Regions from separate parts of the Homo sapiens genome. Here region 2 is linked to region 1. The links come from fine-mapping of genetic effects on gene expression. A gene starts in region 1. The other region holds a variant in brackets. All regions are shown on one strand. Distances are between the middles of the regions.

The links.
Region 2: its variant is fine-mapped to the expression of DNPEP in spleen (GTEx, PIP 0.98).

What each region holds. Positions count from the first base shown.
Region 1 is chr2:219,382,846-219,392,347 of GRCh38, reverse strand. DNPEP (aspartyl aminopeptidase) reads left to right here and starts at 4,436. Exons shown (of 15, transcript NM_012100.4): 1 at 4,436-4,589; 2 at 5,185-5,278; 3 at 5,368-5,456; 4 at 5,570-5,683; 5 at 5,937-6,062; 6 at 6,250-6,380; 7 at 6,642-6,717; 8 at 6,817-6,924; 9 at 7,905-7,982; 10 at 9,134-9,217. The coding sequence starts at 4,554. DNPEP-AS1 (DNPEP antisense RNA 1) reads right to left here and starts at 3,778. Exons shown (of 4, transcript NR_183823.1): 1 at 3,552-3,778; 2 at 3,300-3,461. RefSeq lists silencers at 3,635-3,784, 3,865-4,384, 4,405-4,644 and an enhancer at 4,909-5,755.
Region 2 is chr2:219,418,812-219,428,313 of GRCh38, reverse strand. It overlaps DES (desmin), which reads right to left. Exons shown (of 9, transcript NM_001927.4): 1 at 9,274-9,502; 2 at 8,159-8,219; 3 at 7,968-8,063; 4 at 7,658-7,819; 5 at 7,361-7,486; 6 at 6,754-6,974; 7 at 4,494-4,537; 8 at 2,569-2,651; 9 at 1,580-2,365. The coding sequence ends at 2,324. Among named protein-coding and RNA genes, the nearest start is that of DES, 5.2 kb to the right of the region's middle. The variant T/G (reference allele first, on the strand shown) is at 6,238.

The sequences.
Region 1 (9,502 bases):
AAGACATATGTATCTTATAAACTCACACTGAAGTGTATGTAACTGACTTCTATGTTCACGCAAAAGTATTTGCACTTTAATATGTGTTAAACCAAAAAGATGAATGAATAATGGTAGCATTGTAAACATCAGCCGAGATCTTCCAGGGAAGATTTTCTCAGAAGGCCAAGGGCAAGAACGATTCTCAGAAACTTTTTCTTTCTTGATCCCTAGTCATCCCTTGACTTTGCCACCTGAACTCCAAATCCATCACCATTCCCTTACCCAGAGGTGACCATTATCCTTCCAAACCTGTTTCTATCCATTTACATATGTATTTATATAACATCTAGAAATATAAATTTAGCTCATTGTGTGAGTTTTATCTAAAGGCCCTCACCTTACATTCTAGAAATTGCTTTTTTTTTTCACTCAACAGTATATTTGGAATTCTTTTCTGTAACAATTCCTAAAGACTGACCTTTTTTTTTTTTTTATGAACTGCTACACAGCACTTTAAAATACTGTGTCTCAAGCATTCAAATCATCTAGGAATCTTGTTAACATGCAGATGCTGATTCTATAACTCTAGGGTAAGCCCTGAGGTTCTGCATTTCTAAAAAGCTCCCAGATGTTATTGACATTGCTGGTCAACAGATCACACATTTAGTAGCAAAGATGTACAGTACGGGTGGAATAGTGTGCTGGGGCCAACTTGGACAAGCTCATGAGAACTGATTGTCAAATTTCCAGGAATTTGGTGAGCTTGTTGTTAAACACAGCAATCATTAAAAAAAACTAAATTATATACACTTACAATTAAATAAATTATATTACAGATAATGAAAACCAAAAATCCATCACCTTTCCAAACATTTTACTGCCTTCTTAAATCTATGCTGTTGATGTTATTTCTATCCATTGTGTCTGCATGGTGGAAATCTACATAATGGCATGCTTCCGCACAGCTCTTCCCAACTCCCTTCAGTGACATCATCTCGACAGCTTGAAATCGGCCACGGGGAACATTTACACCACAGAAATTTGGGTATAAAGGTCTGTGCAAACATACCCCCAAAGTTCAGGGAAGCTGAAAAGCCGACGAAAGAGGCTGACATATACAGTCTCTCAGAAAGAAACATTTCATAGGGACTTATGAATAGAGGCCATAGTTTCAGAGATGAAATGGTGGATTACCCTGCAAACCCAGGGCTTACATACCATAGGGAAACAATGTGTCAAACAATTGAAGTTGACCCCTCAGGCAAAGTCATGAATGCTATGTGAATCTGTCTAAGCGCAGGATTTATGGTAATAGTAGGTAAAGTAGAAAACTTAGAGTCATTCCTGGAACAGGTTGTTGAAAAGTCAACATGGCAGATTAGCTTCCCAGATGGAGTTGCTTTAGCCTCCAGAAAATGCTTGCATTACCCCAAGCCTTCTCCAACACTTGATATTACCCATCTTTTCCATTTTTGTTAATCTGCTCAATAAAAAGAAAAAGTATCTCATTTTTATTATTTATTAATTTTTTTTTTGAGTTGGAGTCTCGCACTTGTTGCCTGGGCTGGAGTGCAATGGCACGATCTCGGCTCACTGCAACCTCTGCCTCCCGGGTTCAAGCAGTTCTCCTGCCTCAGTCTCCTGAGTAGCTGGGATTACAAGTGCACACCACCATGTCCAGCTAATTTTTTGTATTTTTAGCCAGGCTAGTCTCAAACTCCTGACCTCGTGATCCACCCGCCTTTGCCTCCCAAAGTGCTGGGATTACAGGCATGAGCCACCACGCCCAACTGTTATCTCATTTTTAACTTGCATTTTCCTGTTTAAAGTGAGATTAGGTGTCTCATATGTTCATGACTAGAAATTTAACAATATTTCTTGCTCTTGTAAATATAGCCCTTTTACTTTTTTCTTTTTTACCCAAACCAAAAATGGTCAATAAGAACCTTTTTACTTTTATATTTTCTAGGTGATTATTGTACAAGAAAGTCAGTGTTTTTTAAATTAGGCTACCCTTCCTACCAGTTCTAATAATAGCTTGATCGTTTATTTTCTTGGGGATTCTAGATAATCATATAATCTATAAATAATGACCAATTTTACTTTTGCACATATAGAATTGTTAATTTTGTTTTGTGGTACTGGCTCTGACTACAGCTCCACATTGTCTAGCAGCAGTAATAGCTCATCAATGTCTCACTTCTGATTTGAATAGGAACACTTCTGTATTTCCCTCCCAAAATGCTGGGATGACAGGCGTGAGCCACCACTCCCGGCTCACTTTCTAAGTTATGCATTTTGGTGATGTTTGAATCTCTTACTCAAGCATGTACTCTTTTCTGTGATCAGAAAGAACATTAAAGGTGGTTCCTTATTCAGGTTGTCTCCTTCCCTTATACATTGTAGCCTTGTTTCGGCCCTTTCACTGTCCTCCTTGAATGTGTCCCCTCCCCAGGAGGTAGAGGACAAGAATGCTCTCTCCATGTCCTGCTCAGCATTGAGCTTTATACATAATTTTATTTATTTATTTATTGAGACAGAATCTCACTCTGTCGCCCAGGCTGGAGTGCAGTGGCACGATCTCAGCTCACTGCAACCTCCACCTCCCGGGTTCAAGCGATTCTCTTGCCTCAGCCTCCCAAGTAGCTGCTGGGATTACAGGCACGTGCCACTACACCCGGCTAATTTTTGTATTTTTTGTAGAGACGGGGTTTCACCATGTTGGTCAGACTGGTCACGAACTCCTGACCTCAAGTGATCTACCCGCCTCGGCCTCCCAAAGTGCTGGGATTACAGGCGTGAGCCACTGCGCCAGGCCCATAATGGTATTTCAACAAACGGTTAGGGAATGCCATGAATTTAAGCCAGCACCTAGTGGGTGAATTCTTGAAAACTCCCCTGCCATATCTACTAGTTTGAAGTGAGGGCTGCAGGACCTTTCCAGCCTCTCCCCATCCCACCCTGTCACTCCCCACCCCAGGTATATAAACGGCAGGTTGCTCCATAAACCTGTGATCTCTGGAATTTTGTTTGAACCCCTGGTAGCTGGGCCCTGTTTTGGATCTAGAGGCCACCAAGAGTCCTGATCAGTTCCTGCAGCTAGGAAGGTGCATGGGGTTTAAACGTGCTACTCACTACTCCTGACATGGGAATACTGGAACTGCCAATAATGTGGAATTTGTTTTTCTGTTGTTTTTAACAAATGGAAAGGGCACAGATATCAGAGTCAAATCCCAGATCCACCCAAACAGCTATGTGATCTTGGGCAAGTCAACTTCTGTGTCCCTTGTGGACCTCCCGTGTAACATAACACTTACCAAAGCGCATAGAAAAAGGTCCAGAAAAGATCTGAGAGAAGGCTGTAGGGTTGTTCCAGGCCTCTGCAATCAAACTGATGGAGTTCAAACCCCACCTGTGCCGTTTATTACCTCGACGGATCACTAGTCTCCGTATCTCAGCTTTCTCTGTTCATGCATAAACTGGGGACAGTAAGAGTACATAGTTGATGGGGCAGTTGTGAAGATTAAACGAGGTAACAGGCCAATCTTTATCATAAAGCTAAAGCTCACCGTGAGCGCCCCATGGACATTAGCCTTATTGCTTTTATTGTCACAAAGGTGGCTGTGGCGAGAGACAGCACTTTGTACCGTACCCGTCGGACCCGGTGAGCTGGAGGGGCGAGCTTTTTATTGGCCTCGAGGCCCGGGGCACGGGGAGGCGGGCCGTCCGCGGCTGTCCTAGCACCTCCGCGGCAGCAGAGGGCCCTGGCGGCGGCTGCGGGTCGCGCGGCGTGGGTGACGGGGGTGCAGGGCGGGGCCTAACGAGCAGCCCCCGCAGGGGCGGAGACGAGGGCGGGCCGGAGGCGGAGGCGCGGCCTGGAGAGGGATGGGGCGGAAGCGGGGCGGGCGGTGCAGCCTAGCGAGGGGCGGGGCGGACGAGGAAGCGTGACGAGCGGCGGGGCGGGTGGAGCAGCCTGGCGAGGAGCGGGGCGGGGTGGGCGGCACGGCCTGACAAGGGGCGGGGAGCGCAAGGAGGCCTGACGAAGGGCGGGGCGGAGCAAGGGCGGGGGCAGGGCGAGTAGTGGGGTACAGCGAGGGCCGGAGCGGATGGGGGAAACCTGGTGAGGGGCGGGACAAAGCGGGGAGGGCGGTGCAGCCTGGCGAGAGGCGGGGCGGACGAGGAAGCTTGACGAGGGGCGGGGCGGGCGGTGCAGCCCTGCGAGGGGCAGGGCGGGCGGTGCTTCCTGGCGAGGGGCGGGGCGGGGCGGGCGGTGCGGCCAAGCTAGGGGCGGGGCAAGGGCGGGGCAAGGCGGGTGGTGGTGCCCAGCGAGGGGCGGAGCGGACAGGGTAAGCCCGCCGAGGGGCGGGGCTGACCGAGGTGGGCGGGGCGGATGCCGAGGGGCGGGGAGAGGTGGGCGGGGAGGCCAAACATGGGGCGGGGCGGCGCGGCCGGGGAAGCGTGATGAAGGCCTACGAGTGCGGCGCGGCCTGAAGGGGCACGCGGGGGACCTGCAAAGCTAGTGAGGGGCGGGGCAGGCGGCGCGGTGGGGGCGGGCCGAGCCCGGAGGCCAGATGAGCGGACACAGCCCCACGCGCGGGGCCATGCAGGTAAGTGGCTCCCGACGGCCCCACTTGAATTTCGATCCCAGACCGGGTCCGGCGCCCTCCGGGGCCCAAGCTTAGCGCGGTGCTGCAGTGGGGCCGCCTGACCCAAAGCGAAACCGAAAGCCCCGCGGAGGGTGACCTGACGACTTTCCCGGGACTGGAAGGGGGAGTCCTGCGAGAGACTAGGTGGGTGCGAGAGAGGAGTCAGGGTGCTCCTTGGGGTACAGGGCTTTGGCTCCGGGCTGGGTACGCGCACGTGATGCAGGCCGCCTCAGAGTATGGGGCCCGCTTGGGATCCCGGAGTTTGGGAGCAGAACAGGATTTCCTAGCTGGGCAGGGACATGGGGGCGGGACTTAGGGAGTCGGGCTAAAGTTCGGATTAAGGGGCGGGCCTGGCTCATGATCCTGGGCCGGCGGGCTGAAGCTTTCAACGGAGTTTCAGCCCTGGGTTTGGGTCTCTCGGTGGGGACGGGCGGAAGCAGAGGTCTGTGCCTTAGAGTGGTCACTTCTGGGGGTGGGGATGGGAGAATCCTCGGAACCTGGGTGAAAGGTCAGGGGTCCCAGACCTTGTAAAAGTCTGAGCATCCCCCTCCCCTAGGTGGCCATGAACGGTAAGGCCCGCAAAGAGGCGGTGCAGACTGCGGCTAAGGAACTCCTCAAGTTCGTGAACCGGAGTCCCTCTCCTTTCCATGGTAAGCGGTGGCCAGGGCAAGGGAGGAGGGTGGAGGCTGATGCGCCCTTCACCAGCTTCCATCGCTGTGAGAGGGTGCTTTTCCCACAGCTGTGGCTGAATGCCGCAACCGCCTTCTCCAGGCTGGCTTCAGTGAACTCAAGGAGACTGAGAAATGGAATATTAAGCCCGAGAGCAAGGTACTGGGGGTGGGGTGGGGGTGGAAAGGCAGGTCCCTAGGCTGGTCTCCAAGCCCTGTGTGCCAGCTGAGTAATGCAACTCACACCCCTGTCTTTCCTCCCCTTCTCCTCAGTACTTCATGACCAGGAACTCCTCCACCATCATAGCTTTTGCTGTAGGGGGCCAGTACGTTCCTGGCAATGGCTTCAGCCTCATCGGGGCCCACACGGACAGCCCCTGCCTCCGGGTAAGGAACTCGGACGGTGTTGGGGTGGGAGGAGATGTCAGAGGGAGTACAGGGCAAAAGAGAACTAGGAGGTACAAACTGGGGCCTCTATCCCCTGGAGTAAGGGAGAAGGTAAACTTGTTGGCCCCTTCCTTCACACCTTGAGCCTTTCATGTGACACTAATATTCGCTGTCTGTTACTTATGAGTAGCCAAAGTCTCATCTCCACATATCGTCATGAAGCCTTCTCTGACTTCTCCATCTTTACACTCAGGTGAAACGTCGGTCTCGCCGCAGCCAGGTGGGCTTCCAGCAAGTCGGTGTGGAGACCTATGGTGGTGGGATCTGGAGCACCTGGTTTGACCGTGACCTGACTCTGGCTGGACGCGTCATTGTCAAGGTGGGAACCGAGGTTGGGGATGGCGGAGCCTCCTCAGAAGACTGACTGCCACACTCCTCAGGGTACCCGTGGGGAAGAGGGGTGGGGGCAGTCTGGTCAGAGGACCACCCTGCTTAGTCTGAGTGAAGTAAAGACTGACCACTGGGGTAGGAGGCACCCTGGGCTGACCTGGCCTGGCTGGCTGCAGTGCCCTACCTCAGGTCGGCTGGAGCAGCAGCTGGTGCACGTGGAGCGGCCCATTCTTCGCATCCCACACCTGGCCATCCATCTGCAGCGAAATATCAACGAGAACTTTGGGCCCAACACAGAGATGCATCTGTGAGACTGGGGCAGGGCTGCGGTGGCTGGGAGGGATGGAGAATGGTACCAGGTGATTATTACCTAATGGTAGCCATTAGGTCACATTTTACTCTTGGGACCCAGTTAATTTCTAAGGGTCCTCACAGCCTTGTGATTTGGGGAGTGGGCTGGGAATTGAAGGGCAGAGGCAGTTGCCCATCAGGAGGCACCTGAACTTATGGATGCCGCACTCAGCTGTGCCCTCCTCGCAATCCCCCCACAACCCACGTCTCCCCACAGAGTCCCCATTCTTGCCACAGCCATCCAGGAGGAGCTGGAGAAGGGGACTCCTGAGCCAGGGCCTCTCAATGCTGTGGTAAGAGAGTCTCCTGATCATGGGGAGGGCGGCAGAGTCCCCTGAGAAGTGGGGAGGAGAGGAGGAATGGACTCTTCCCAGCATCTTTCTGCTCTTCAGGATGAGCGGCACCATTCGGTCCTCATGTCCCTGCTCTGTGCCCATCTGGGGCTGAGCCCCAAGGACATAGTGGAGATGGAGCTCTGCCTTGCAGACACCCAGCCTGCGGTGAGGACTGGCTGTAGGAACCTGTGGGTGAAGGGCCTCCAGGATCCTGGCCACCCCTAGCCCGTCCTGCTGAAGCACCCATCACCTCCACCAAGCCCTCAGTAACTCTCATCCCCGTTTTTCCCAGTAGACACATCCCCCACTGCTTCTAGGGCGGTGGTTCTCAAAAAGACAAGTTCCCTACCCCAGACCTGCCCACTAGGACTATCTGGGAATTGGCCCTTTTTACAGATTCCCAAAGAGTTTCTTCTACAGGTGGGCCCTGTCTGCTTTGACCCACACTGACACTGAACTGCTTAGGGAAAGAGGCCTGGATGTGGCCATCTGTTCTCTGTCTCCCGGTTGCTGATGGTCAGAGATTGCTAAATCTTTGGATGCTGTGTCCTGCTTGAACACGTACTAAGTTTCTGTTTTTTGGCTGGTTTCCTCTGTTTACTTCTTTGGCCTTTTTGATGACAATTCAGCCCTTCCTTTTCTTGACCCACAGGAAGAGGTCAAGAGCTATTGGCCTCCACCCTTTTGTTCCTCAGCACCAACCCAGCCCCCTTCTCCAATCTCTGCTTGGTCCTGCCTAGCAAGGAATCCCAGCACTTTGGGAGGCTGAGGCGGGGGGAATCACATGAGGTCAGGAGTTCGAGACTAGCCTGACCACCATGGTGAAACCCTGTCTCTAATAAAAATACAAAAATTAGCTGGGCCTGGTGGTGCATGCCTGTAATCCCAGCTACTCAGGAGGCTGAGGCACGAGAATCCTTTGAACCCGGGAGGCGGAAGTTGCAGTGAGCCGAGATCGAGCCATTGCACTTCAGACTGGGCGACAAGAGCGAACCTTCATCTCAAAAAAAAGAAAAAACAAAATAGTGCCCTAAGCCAGGGGTCAGGGAGAGGTTGCGCAAGAAACCAAGGAGACCCTTGGGAGCAAAAGAAAGGTGAGTGGGGGTGGAGGGTTGAAGGTCGGGCTGACTGTCTTACCTCTCTAGGTCTTGGGTGGTGCCTATGATGAGTTCATCTTTGCTCCTCGGCTGGACAATCTGCACAGCTGCTTCTGTGCCCTGCAGGTGAGGAGCCGGGGCGCCCCAGGCAGCACATAACCACCAGCAGAGGTGGTATGTTTGGGGTCGGGGGAGCTGCCTAAAGCCCCAGCAGGTTGTGAGAGAGGGCCATTGTCTACCCGCTCAGTCTGCTGGTGCTGGATGGACCAGGAGGGGGCCCTAAATGTTGCAGCCTCAGCATCGCCACCTTTGGTCTCTGCCCTTGCACTATCAGGGTGTTGAGGCAAGAAGAAGGAGGAGAAGTTGTTTCAGGCACCATGGTCTCTTGTCCTAGCCTTGCTCCTGCTGCTTTTCCTGAAGTTAACAACCTCTGCCTCAGGGAAAGGCTTTATCATCCACAAGGCAGTATCATCCACCTCCTTCTGCTTCCTACGCCACTCCCCAGGCTTAAGACCCCAGCCTTCTCCCTGTTTCTTGGGATCTCAGTCAGGTAGCCTCTCTTCCTAGTCACCTTGATATTCCCCACCTTCTCTCCACCCTAGTCAGTTCCCTTTCTTTCTCTCCTCTTGCCCTTGATCTCCCTCTGCCTTTTTCTGCCTTTCCTTCCCTGTAATCCTGTGGCTGGAGATAGGCTTTGGGCTGTAATTGAGACCAGAGCTGGACCTGGGACCTGCATCTACTTCTGCAGGCAACCAGCCAGTCATGTCACCTTGATGGAGTCTGTCACCTCTTTGAACCTCAGTCTTTTCCCTGAGGCCAATCAGTTTATGTGATGTGTGTAGCCTTTTGGCTTTCCAGGACTCTCAGCTCTTCCTCTCTGTCCTCCACATCTTCTACTGCCTTTTGCATGGGAAGGTAGAGAACAACACCCAAAGGATGGTGTCTCCTGTCCCAGTTGAAAAGGTTTCTACCTAGCTATTGATCTGGCCAAAAAAAAAAAGAAAGAAAGAAAAAAAGAGAAAAAAAAGGTCCTCACCACACCTTAAAGGTTTCTACCTATGTAGCTATTTATTTGGCAAGAAAAAAAAGGTCCCCACCACACCCTCTGCCAGGCAGTGCCCTAATTGATAAAAGTCATGGCCATGGAAGGCAGACAGGGGAATGTGCACACCCAAGGTGCTGGTGGATGGGGGAGCGTGCACACCCAAGGTGCTGGTGGGCTGAGTTCCAGCAGAAGCAGGTTGGAGATGATGCTCTCATTTCCTTCCCTGAACCAGGCCTTGATAGATTCCTGTGCAGGCCCTGGCTCCCTGGCCACAGAGCCTCACGTGCGCATGGTCACACTCTATGACAACGAAGAGGTACGTGGAGGGTTCTGGGGAGGGTCACCTCTGCGGAGTCTTCCACAGCCAACTTGTTGTGCCAGGCATCCACCGTGAGCCAGGGCTCTTCTGGGGGCCCCAAGACAGGGGAGATGCTGCCTGTGCCTCCTTAGCACTTGGTGTCTCCTCTGACTCAACATAGATCTGCTTATTCGAGGGTGACCGTCTCTCCTGTATCTCTCTTTGTGCCACATGGTGAGCTTCTTCCTTTAGGACAGGGACTCTACCCAGCCCATCCTCGTAGCCCCAGGGCTCAGCACAGAG
Region 2 (9,502 bases), 36 kb before region 1:
CTACATGGATCCATCGTTTCCTACATCTTTGATCCACTGGAATATTTTTAGAAGGAGTAAAAGAGAGACAGCCTTCACTCTGCCCCCTACCCCACCTCTTAGCTATCAAAGTGCTCCAAACCCTATACTGAATCATTAAGTTTTCCCCACAAATTCAAAATGCCTCCTTTAACATGTGTATGTCTCCTGTATGTGAGTCTTGTTCTAAACACACTATTTTGTTCATTAATATTTGTATATTTCCTCTTCATTAACAAATCTGTTAATTATCATAGCCTTCTAATATATTTTGATGTTCTTTCTATGATTTCCTAATTTTTTTCCTTTTTCTTTTTTTGAGACAGAGTCTCACTCTGTCACCCAGGCTGGAGTTAGTGGTACAATCTCAGCTCACTGAAGCCTCGACCTCCTGGGCTCAAGCTATCCTCCCACCACAGCCTCCCAAGTAGCTGGAACTACAGGCTCATACCACCATGCCAGGCTAATTTTTTATTTTTTGTAGAGTCAGGGTCTCGTTACATTGCCCAAGCTGGTCTCAAACTCCTGGGCTCAAGAGATCCTCCCACCTCAGCCTCCAAAAGTGCTGGGATTACAGGTGGAGTCACTGTGCCCAGCCTCCTAATTTTTTTCATACGTCTTACACTCCCCTCCCATCTTCTCCAATTCTCTTAAAATTTTTATTTGGTATTTTAATTGAGATTGCATGGCATTGAAATTATAGATGAATGGAAAATGAATTGACTTCTCTTCAGAGTATTGAACCTTCTTATCGAAGCACAGAACAGATCTTTCCATTTTTCCAAACATTATTTTTCCTGAATTGGCTCCTGTGTATAAAAATAGTATTGGAAGGAGTTAATAGAAAGAGGCCATTGGCTCACATCTGTAATCCCAACACTTTGGGAGGCTGAGGTAGCAGGAGGAGCAATTGAGCCCAGAAATTCAAGACCAGCCTCAGCAACACAGAAAGACCTTGTCTCTACAAAAAATAAAAAGCTAGCCAGGCATGGTGGTGTGAACCTGTGGTCCCAGCTACTTGGGAGGCTGAGGTGGGAGGATCGCTTGAGCTCAGGAAGTCCAGGCTGCAGTAAGCCGTGATCACACTGCTGCACTCCAGCCTGGGTGACACAGCAAGACTCCATCTCAAAAAGAAAAAAAGAGAGAGAGAAAAAAAAGGGGCTGTTGGCATCTTTGAAGAAGGGACTGGGGGAGCCCTACTTCAGAGCCAGTCAGTGGGGAGCAGCTACATCCTTCAAAAGGAATAGCAGGTGGTGTCCCCCAGCCTGGCTGACCTGAAGGTGTAGTAGAGAGCACAAGGGGTGCAGTCCTGGAACTGGGGCCTAACGAGAGGTATTTGTGGTTCCCCAACAAAAGCCCTGTCCAGCCCTCCCTGCCCCATACACTGCATACAGACATCAAGGCCAGGTGGCTCTGGGAACAGAAGTGGGCGCGAGGCCCTGGGGAAAGTCTGGCTGGGTAGAAGGTCAGTATAGTCCATCTCAGGGTGACAGGTTGTATCACAGGGCCCCAGGGGCCCCACAGGAGACCTGGCAGTCAAGACAACAGGGGCCAGCTTGGCTTGTGTGTGAATCTCTTTATTGTTTCTCTCCAGAGCCCCTGCAGCAGGGGAGGGGAGGGCGTGGGGAGGTGGGCGCCCCTCCCACCAGCCTGAGACCGCTCTCTGCCTCTCTCCTCTCCTCTCTTCTCCAGCATCTCACCCACTTTCTCTCCTTCTCAATCTCCTGCTCCCACCTCCAGCACCTTCGGGGATTCCCTCTTGTAGCCCCTGCTTTCTAAGTCCACCCTGGGCTGGGGAAAGGAAAGTAAGAGACCACGGGGACAATTTCAAGCCCCCCAGTCTCCACAGGGGCTAGTCCCCCTGGCTACCTGCCTGGCTTTCTCTCTCCTGGGCTAGGGGCTGGGGAGGTCTGCGGGGCTCAGTCCTGGCCCTGCAGTATCCCAACACCCTGCTCTGGGGCTGTCTCCAGAGCCAAAGGCTAGTGCCTGAGGTCACAGAGGTGGGAGGGACAGGGCCACCGCTCCCGCCTGGGCTCCATCCAGCACAAGAGCCAGGCTCACTCACTGCCAACAGCCAAGGCTCACAGCTGGGGTCCGCAGAGGTGGCCGGGGCATGCCCTGTGACCAGGCAGGGATGGGCTATGTCGCTGTTGGGGACCACGAGGGATGGCCAGTGAGGAGGGGTCAGAGGCTGTGAGGGGAGGACTGAGGCTGGGTGTGGTGTCCTGGGATGGAAGAAGGCTGGCTTCAGGGAGCAGTGAGGACAGGGGTGAGGACGGTCTCTGGTGGCAGAGGGTCTCTGTCTTTAGAGCACTTCATGCTGCTGCTGTGTGGCCTCACTGACGACCTGGGGAGGAAGAGAAGCCCAGTCCAACCATGTGCTAGCCAGAGAATGGAGCCTCAGCCCTGAGCCATCCCCACCCCAGGGCCGCAGGATCTCTCTTGCCCCACTAGCCAGGGACCTAGACCAGCACAGCTGGGTGGAAGACAGTCCCCCCAGACACATCCATAGCCCCCACCAAGGGTAAGGAGCCCAGACAGACCACTTACCTCCCCATCCCGTGTCTCGATGGTCTTGATCATCACCGTCTTCTTGGTATGGACCTCAGAACCCCTTTGCTCAGGGCTGGTTTCTGTAACAGGGTCCATCGCACACTCAGCCTGACCAAGTCCAGGCTGGGCTATACCAGGGGCTGGGAGTCCATCTGGGGCCACATTGGGCAGAGCCCTAGCAGACCCCAACCCCCCTCAAGACAGGCTTGTTACTTCTTCAAGACTTTAACACCTTTCCTTCAGCCCAGCACCCAGCAGGTGGTTCTGCAGTCCCCAGCGCCTGTCCCATAGTTTAGATGGTCTCAGGAGCCAACAGATTTGCTCCATGTGCAGGATGGTGCAGGAGGGTAGGGGACACCTGAGGCCCAGGCTGCACAGCACTGACATTCCCCATCCCTCCTAGTTCCTCTCCACCCCCAGGCCCCAGGAGAGCCCTGCACACATTTGTCTCCTGGGACTCCCCTTCTTCAAGATAGAACCCCAAAGCCCAGTCTCAAGACACTCTTTAGAGGACCTTACAGTACCTATCTCCCTTTAAGATTTCAGGGCCAGGTGCGGTGGCTCACATCTGTAATCCCAGTAGTTTGGGAGACCGAGGCAGGTGGATCATGAGGCCAGGAGTTCCAGACCACCCTGACCAACATGGTGAAACCCCGTCTCTACTAAAAATACAAAAATTAGGGGGGCGTGGTGGCACATGCCTGTAATCCCAGCTACTCAGGAGGCTGAGGCAGGAGAATTGCTTGAACCTGGGAGGCGGAGGTTGCGGTGAGCCGAGATTGCACCACTGCACTCCAGCCTGGGCGACAGAGCGAGACTCCGTTTCAAAAGAAAAAAAAAATTCAGATGAGCAACTTGATGTCTTAAAGTGAGACAGAGCAGGAATAAGGCACTGACTCATTGTGCTGATGCTCAGTCACTTGCCATTCTGTGCCTCAGTTTCCTCACTGAGGACACGGAGTGAAGTGGTACCAACCTTATCATGGCCACAAAGCTATTGATTTGGAAAAGCACTGTGCAATGTGGGTGGAGTTTTTTGTACTATGAAGTTTTAAATGCAAGACTCATACTTGGTGTCTGTATAAACAACTAACTGAAAAGAGAGGCTCTGAGTTGTGTAGGAAAGGTCAAATGGAGGTCCTTGGTATTATGAGTTTGGTGCTTACGAATTTCCTTAGCTAGCAACCAGCCTGTGATGAATGTTGTGACTCGCTGGAGCGCAGCGTGTTTTTTTTCCTGATGGAAATGTACATCGAAGATAGAAAAGGTTTGATCTAGGAAAGGAGAAGCTGCCAAGGACTCCGACTTGCTTTCCTAATGCATCATTATCGTGTGTTTCTCTGCTCTCTGGGGTTGGAAAGCCACCCGATCTGCGTATTACTAATGTCAAAATGGCAGAGTGCCCTAAGAGCTCGTTCTTTTCATTGTTTGGCTTTGCTAAGATTTGGCATTTTTTTCCAAACGTGCATCCAACATCTTGCTCCAGCAAACTGGAGGTGTTCGACAAGCAGCCAAGGTGGGGCTTGGCAATGTGCCAAACAGACAATGGGCTGTGGGTGTCTTAGAGGGCAGGTGGTATGAGATGCTCCTGAAGCCAGGTCCCCAAGGACACTCCTGCTTTCAGAGTTTGGGATTCAGAACAGAGGCTGCTTCCTGAGGCCCAATACTCCAAGAAGGTGCAGGGGACATGGTAAATACAATACAATATAATCACATAAAAAGCTCTCTCTGTCATAAGTTGCCTCATCCACCTCTACCTAAACTCCCCCACCTACCCGCAGTGGTCCCCTTTTTCTTCCCCAGACTCCAGGTCTGTCCCTAGCCCCAGGGTCCCATCCTCCCTCCTGGCTGGCCTTGGGCAGTGCCCATGCTGGACTCCTGGCCCCTGCAACTCCAGCCTCCGCCTGCCAGCAGACACTCACCTCGGAAGTTGAGGGCAGAGTAGGTCTGGATGGGGAGATTGATCCTAAAAGGGAAGAGACAAAACCTCCTAAGAGTTAAGAACCCTCCCATCGGCCGGGCCCAGCTGTAATCCCAGCACTTTGAAAGGCCGAGGCGGGCGGATCACCAGGTCAGGAGATCGAGACCATCCTGGCTAACACAGTGAAACCCCGTCTCTACTAAAAATACAAAAAATTAGCCGGGCATGGTGGCGGGCACCTGTAGTTCCAGATACTCAGGAGGGTGAGGCAGGAGAATGGTGCGAACCCAGGAGGTGGAGCTTGCAGTGAGCGGAGATTGCACCACTGCACTCCAGCCTGGGGGACAGAACAAGACCCTGTCTCAAAAAAAAAAAAAAAAGAACCCTCCCATCTTTCCCTGAGACCGCCCATCAAGGCTCACCCTGGTCCTTTCTAAACACCATCCTCAGCTGTCCCAGTCCCACGGACCCCAGCACTCCCACCACCCATACTGCTCAAGGAATGGGGTCGAAGGCCAGCTAGAGCTGTCCCAGGAATAGTCTCTTCTGGAAGGATCATTATTTCAACTGTGAACTGCTGGCACGACACTAGGATGTGCAACCCCACCGCGCCCTCCAGAGCACCAGGATTTCCTTCTTGCTCCTGGCACTGAAGTTGGTACTAGTAGCAGCTGTGGGTGATATCCATTGCTCATGCCCACCCTCCAGCCAGGCCAGTTCTGAGAGCTTACTATTTAGGCCTAATGCTGGGAAAATGCAACATGCCTTTAGCTACCTTCAAAGGCCATCATATGTAGACGTGATTTTACAAAATCTGAAGTTTCTCTTTATGTTTGTACCTGTATCTAAACATGTCTGCTCCTTTTTAAAAATTTCAGATATTATTTTTATGAGTATCAAGGGGTACCAGTTTTTGGAGTAACTGATCTGTTTTAAATTGAGGTTAAATTTACATACAGTGAAATGCACAGATCTTTAATGTACAATTCAATGAGTTTTGATCAATGTCCACGTCTGTGTAACTACCAGTCCAAATCAAGATATAGAACATTTCTAGGCCAGGCACAGTGGCTCATGCCTATAATCCCAGCACTTTGGGAGGCTGAGGCAGGCGAATTACTTGAGGTCAGGAGTTAGAGTCCAGCCTGACCAACATGGTGAAACCTCATCTCTACTAAAAATACAAAAAATCAGCTGAGTGTGTTGGCACACGCCTGTAATCCCAGCTACTAGGGAGGCTGAGACAGGAGAACCGCTTGAGCCTGGGAGGCAGAGGTTGCAGTGAGCTGAGATCACACCACTGCACTCCAGCCTGGGTGACAGAGCAAGACTCTGTCTCAAAAAAAAAAAAAAAAAAAGATATAGAACATTTCTGTTATCCCACAAGGTTCCCTGGTGTCCCTTTCCAGTTGTATGTTGTTTTCTGTGTCTAGAGGTGGGTTGCTCTGAGCATGACGTCTGTGTCTTTTCCTCCGAACATGTGCATATGCTGACATGTGTGCATGTGTGTGCAAACTCATGCCTTCTGTATGCATCTCTTTACCTTCTCTTAGCCTATCCCTGTGCAAGGCTTCTCTCCCTCCCTCTCTCTATTTGCCTCTATCTGCTCCCTCCGTTTCCCTCCTCATCACTCCCCATTCTGCTTTCATCTCTCCCTTGACTGGCAGTAATATTTTATTATTGGTTGCTGAATATGGTTTTTTTTGCTGCTGGTTCTTAATTCTGAAGGTGGATAAGGGAATACT[T/G]ATATTTCTCTTTTTATAAATGCTGTTAATTAAATTGCTTTTTACCCAGGTGGCCTTGGTTAATTCTCTGCAATTAATAGAGCAGTGGCCTCTTGTATAAAATTGTTTCCACGCCGGGTGCGGTGGCTCACGCCTGTAATCCCAGTACTTTGGGAGGCTGAGGTAGGCAGATCACCTGAGGTCAGGAGTTCGAGACCAGCTGCCCAACATAGTGAAACCCCGTCTCTACTAAAAATACAAAAATTAGCCAGGCGTGGTGGTAGGCGCCTGTAATCCCAGCTGCTCGGGAAGCTGAGGCAGGAGAATTGCTTGAACCCAGGAGGCGGAGGTTGCAGTGAGCCAAGATGGTGCCATTGCACTCCAGACTGGGCGACAAGAGCGAAACTCCATCTCAAAAAAAAAAAAAATTGTTTCCAGGTCTTGTTGAGGTAATCAGTAATCTCGAGCCTCCTGGGGACAGAAATGGACCACCCAGCACCCCGCACCTCCCACTCGGGCTCCTGCCTGGCCCCTCACCGGCTCTCCTCTCCCTCCAGCAGCTTCCGGTAGGTGGCAATCTCCACATCCAGGGCCATCTTCACGTTGAGCAGGTCCTGGTACTCGCGCAGATGGCGGGCCATCTCATCCTTGAGGTGCCGGATTTCCTCCTCCAGGCGCGCAATGTTGTCCTGGTAGCCACTGGCCTCACTGGCAAATCGGTCCTCCAATTCCCGCATCTGCCTCATCAGGGAATCGTTCTGCAGGAGAGGGGGAACCCAGGTCAAGGAAGGGAAGAGGACACTAGCAGCCCAAAGAAAGCTTTGGGGCTGGCAGGCAACTCCAGATGGTCAGGTCCAGGCCATGTTGAACCCTGAACTCAAATTAAGTCTATATGTGAACACTCAGAATAAAATAGATACAAAGGAACATTGCATTCAGCCTCACAGTCCCCACATAGGTAGATGCCCAGGAACCCCTGATTCCTTAGCATCCAACTGGAATCCACTTGTCTGGTTTTACCCCTATTGTAGATTTAAGTAGATGAAGGCCCAGAGAGGATCTATGATGGGCCCAAGGTCACAAAGTGAGGGTGTGAACTGCAGACAGGAAGGGGCAGGGCCTGGCCAGGTGGGCAGGGACTCACAGTGCCCTTCAGGGCGTCAATCTCGCAGGTGTAGGACTGGATCTGGTGTCGGTATTCCATCATCTCCTGCTTGGCCTGGCGCAGGGCGTCGTTGTTCTTGTTGGCTGCCTGGGTCAGGTCTGACACCTAAGGGCAGAGAAAGGGGCCCAAAAATGAGAAGGATGCAGGGCACGGGTAGGGATGAGCAAGGGAGCATGAAGCCTCTGGGCTCTCCTCCCATGGATGGTACCACAGGCAGCACATCCAAGCTGGGATTCAGGGGGACGGAGATGCCAGTCCCCGGGCGAGGCCACCCACCTTCGACTTGTACCACTCCTCAGCTTCAGAAATGTTCTTAGCCGCGATGGTCTCATACTGAGCCCGGATGTCCCTGAGGGCGGCAGTGAGGTCTGGCTTAGACATGTCCATCTCCACCTGGACCTGCTGTTCCTGAAGCTGAGCCTGCAACTCACGGATCTCCTGTAGGGCATGACTGGGCTTCAGTCCCCTCTCAGGGCCCACACAGCACCCTCACACCCCTATTCCCAGCCAGAGCCTCACCCCAACCCCACTTTCCGGCTGCTTTCCCCATGGCCCAGTGACCCCAGGAAGAGGGGCCAAGGTATACCTCTTCATGCACTTTCTTAAGGAACGCGATCTCCTCGTTGAGAGATTCAATTCTGCGCTCCAGGTCAATGCGAGCTAGAGTAGCTGCATCCACGTCCTGGGAGAGGCCAAGCGAGAAGGACATGGTCACCGCCACCCAGGTGGGGCAGAGCAAGGCCAGAGGCCATGCAAGGGGAAAAGAAGGGCACTCACCGCTCGGAAGGCAGCCAAATTGTTCTCTGCTTCTTCCTTCAACTGAATCTCCTCCTGCAGCCTGGGTGGGACAGACAGAAAGACAGACAGTTGCGGGTGATAAAGCTGGCAGTGGAAACGACTGGCCGGGGGCTGACCAGGGGGTGGGTCCAGGACAGAGCGGGAGGGCCTGGCTGCTGGGTAGAGGCAGGAGAGACAGGGAGTGGAGAGGCCCCACCCACCCAGGGAGGGCACAGGAAGTGGCCCAATCTCTGCCCAGGAGCCACACCCTTGAAGTCTATGTCCCCACCAGACTGTGTGACCTCCCTGGGGTTAGAAACTGTGTCTATTTTATCCACCTCTGTGTTTCTGGTTCCCAGCTCCAGCCTGGCCAATATAGCTGCTCAATTAATATTTATGACTTTGGTGGCAGGAGGGTGACTGTGCTCACTTGGCCTGTCAGAAGTGGGACCAACAAATATGCTACACTTGCTGCCCTTTTCGTTCTTGGAGCCTGGTGAAGTCTACAGTCAGGTCCTCCCAAGCTCTCTGAGAGCTGTGACCCCCACCTACTCCCTTTTTCTCCAGCCTGTCCATTCACCTTGTAAAAAGACACAGTCTCGGCAAGGCCCCAGGGCCAAGCTCCCCCCTCCCCCCACCTCCCCCAGGGCCTCATCACAGCTGAGCTGAGAGCTGTTGCTTGGACTCTGGGCCCTTGCCCTGCTTTCCCTGTCTCCTATCAGCCTCCCTTCTCCCTCTGGCTACACTGCCCTCTGGGCCTCCTGCAGCCCTTCCTCTGCCCATCAACTACCTGACCCCATAAATATCGCCCCAGCATCTTAAAATGCTTTTTAACGGGGCTGTCCACAGGGCACCGGGTCCCCTAAATTCTCCCATATCCACCCCCTGATCTATGTCCCCAAGAAAACTCCTGTGCAAGATGGGATCGCAGGGGGAGAGACCTGGAGGTCACGGCCCCTTGAAACACACAGGTGGAGGACCCTTTCTCCACATGGGGCAGGAGAGGGTCCCGGGCCCCGGGAGAAGGCAGGTGCTGACAGCGGGACCCCAGACCCCAGGCCTAGCCTCCTGTGCCCTGCCCGCAGAAAGAGGAGTCTGGGGTGCCGGGCCCTCACTTGGCCTTGAGCCGCTGCAGGTCGTCGAGCAGGTTGTCGCGCTCGACGTCGACGCGCGCGCGCTGGTTAGTGAGCACCTCCACCTGGCGCCGCAGCTCCCGCAGCTCCTCCTCGTAGAGCTCGGCCACTCGCGTCGGCTCGCGGCCCTTGAGCCGGTTCACTTCGGCGGCGAGCGCCGCGTTCTGCTGCTCCAGGAAGCGCACCTTCTCGATGTAGTTGGCGAAGCGGT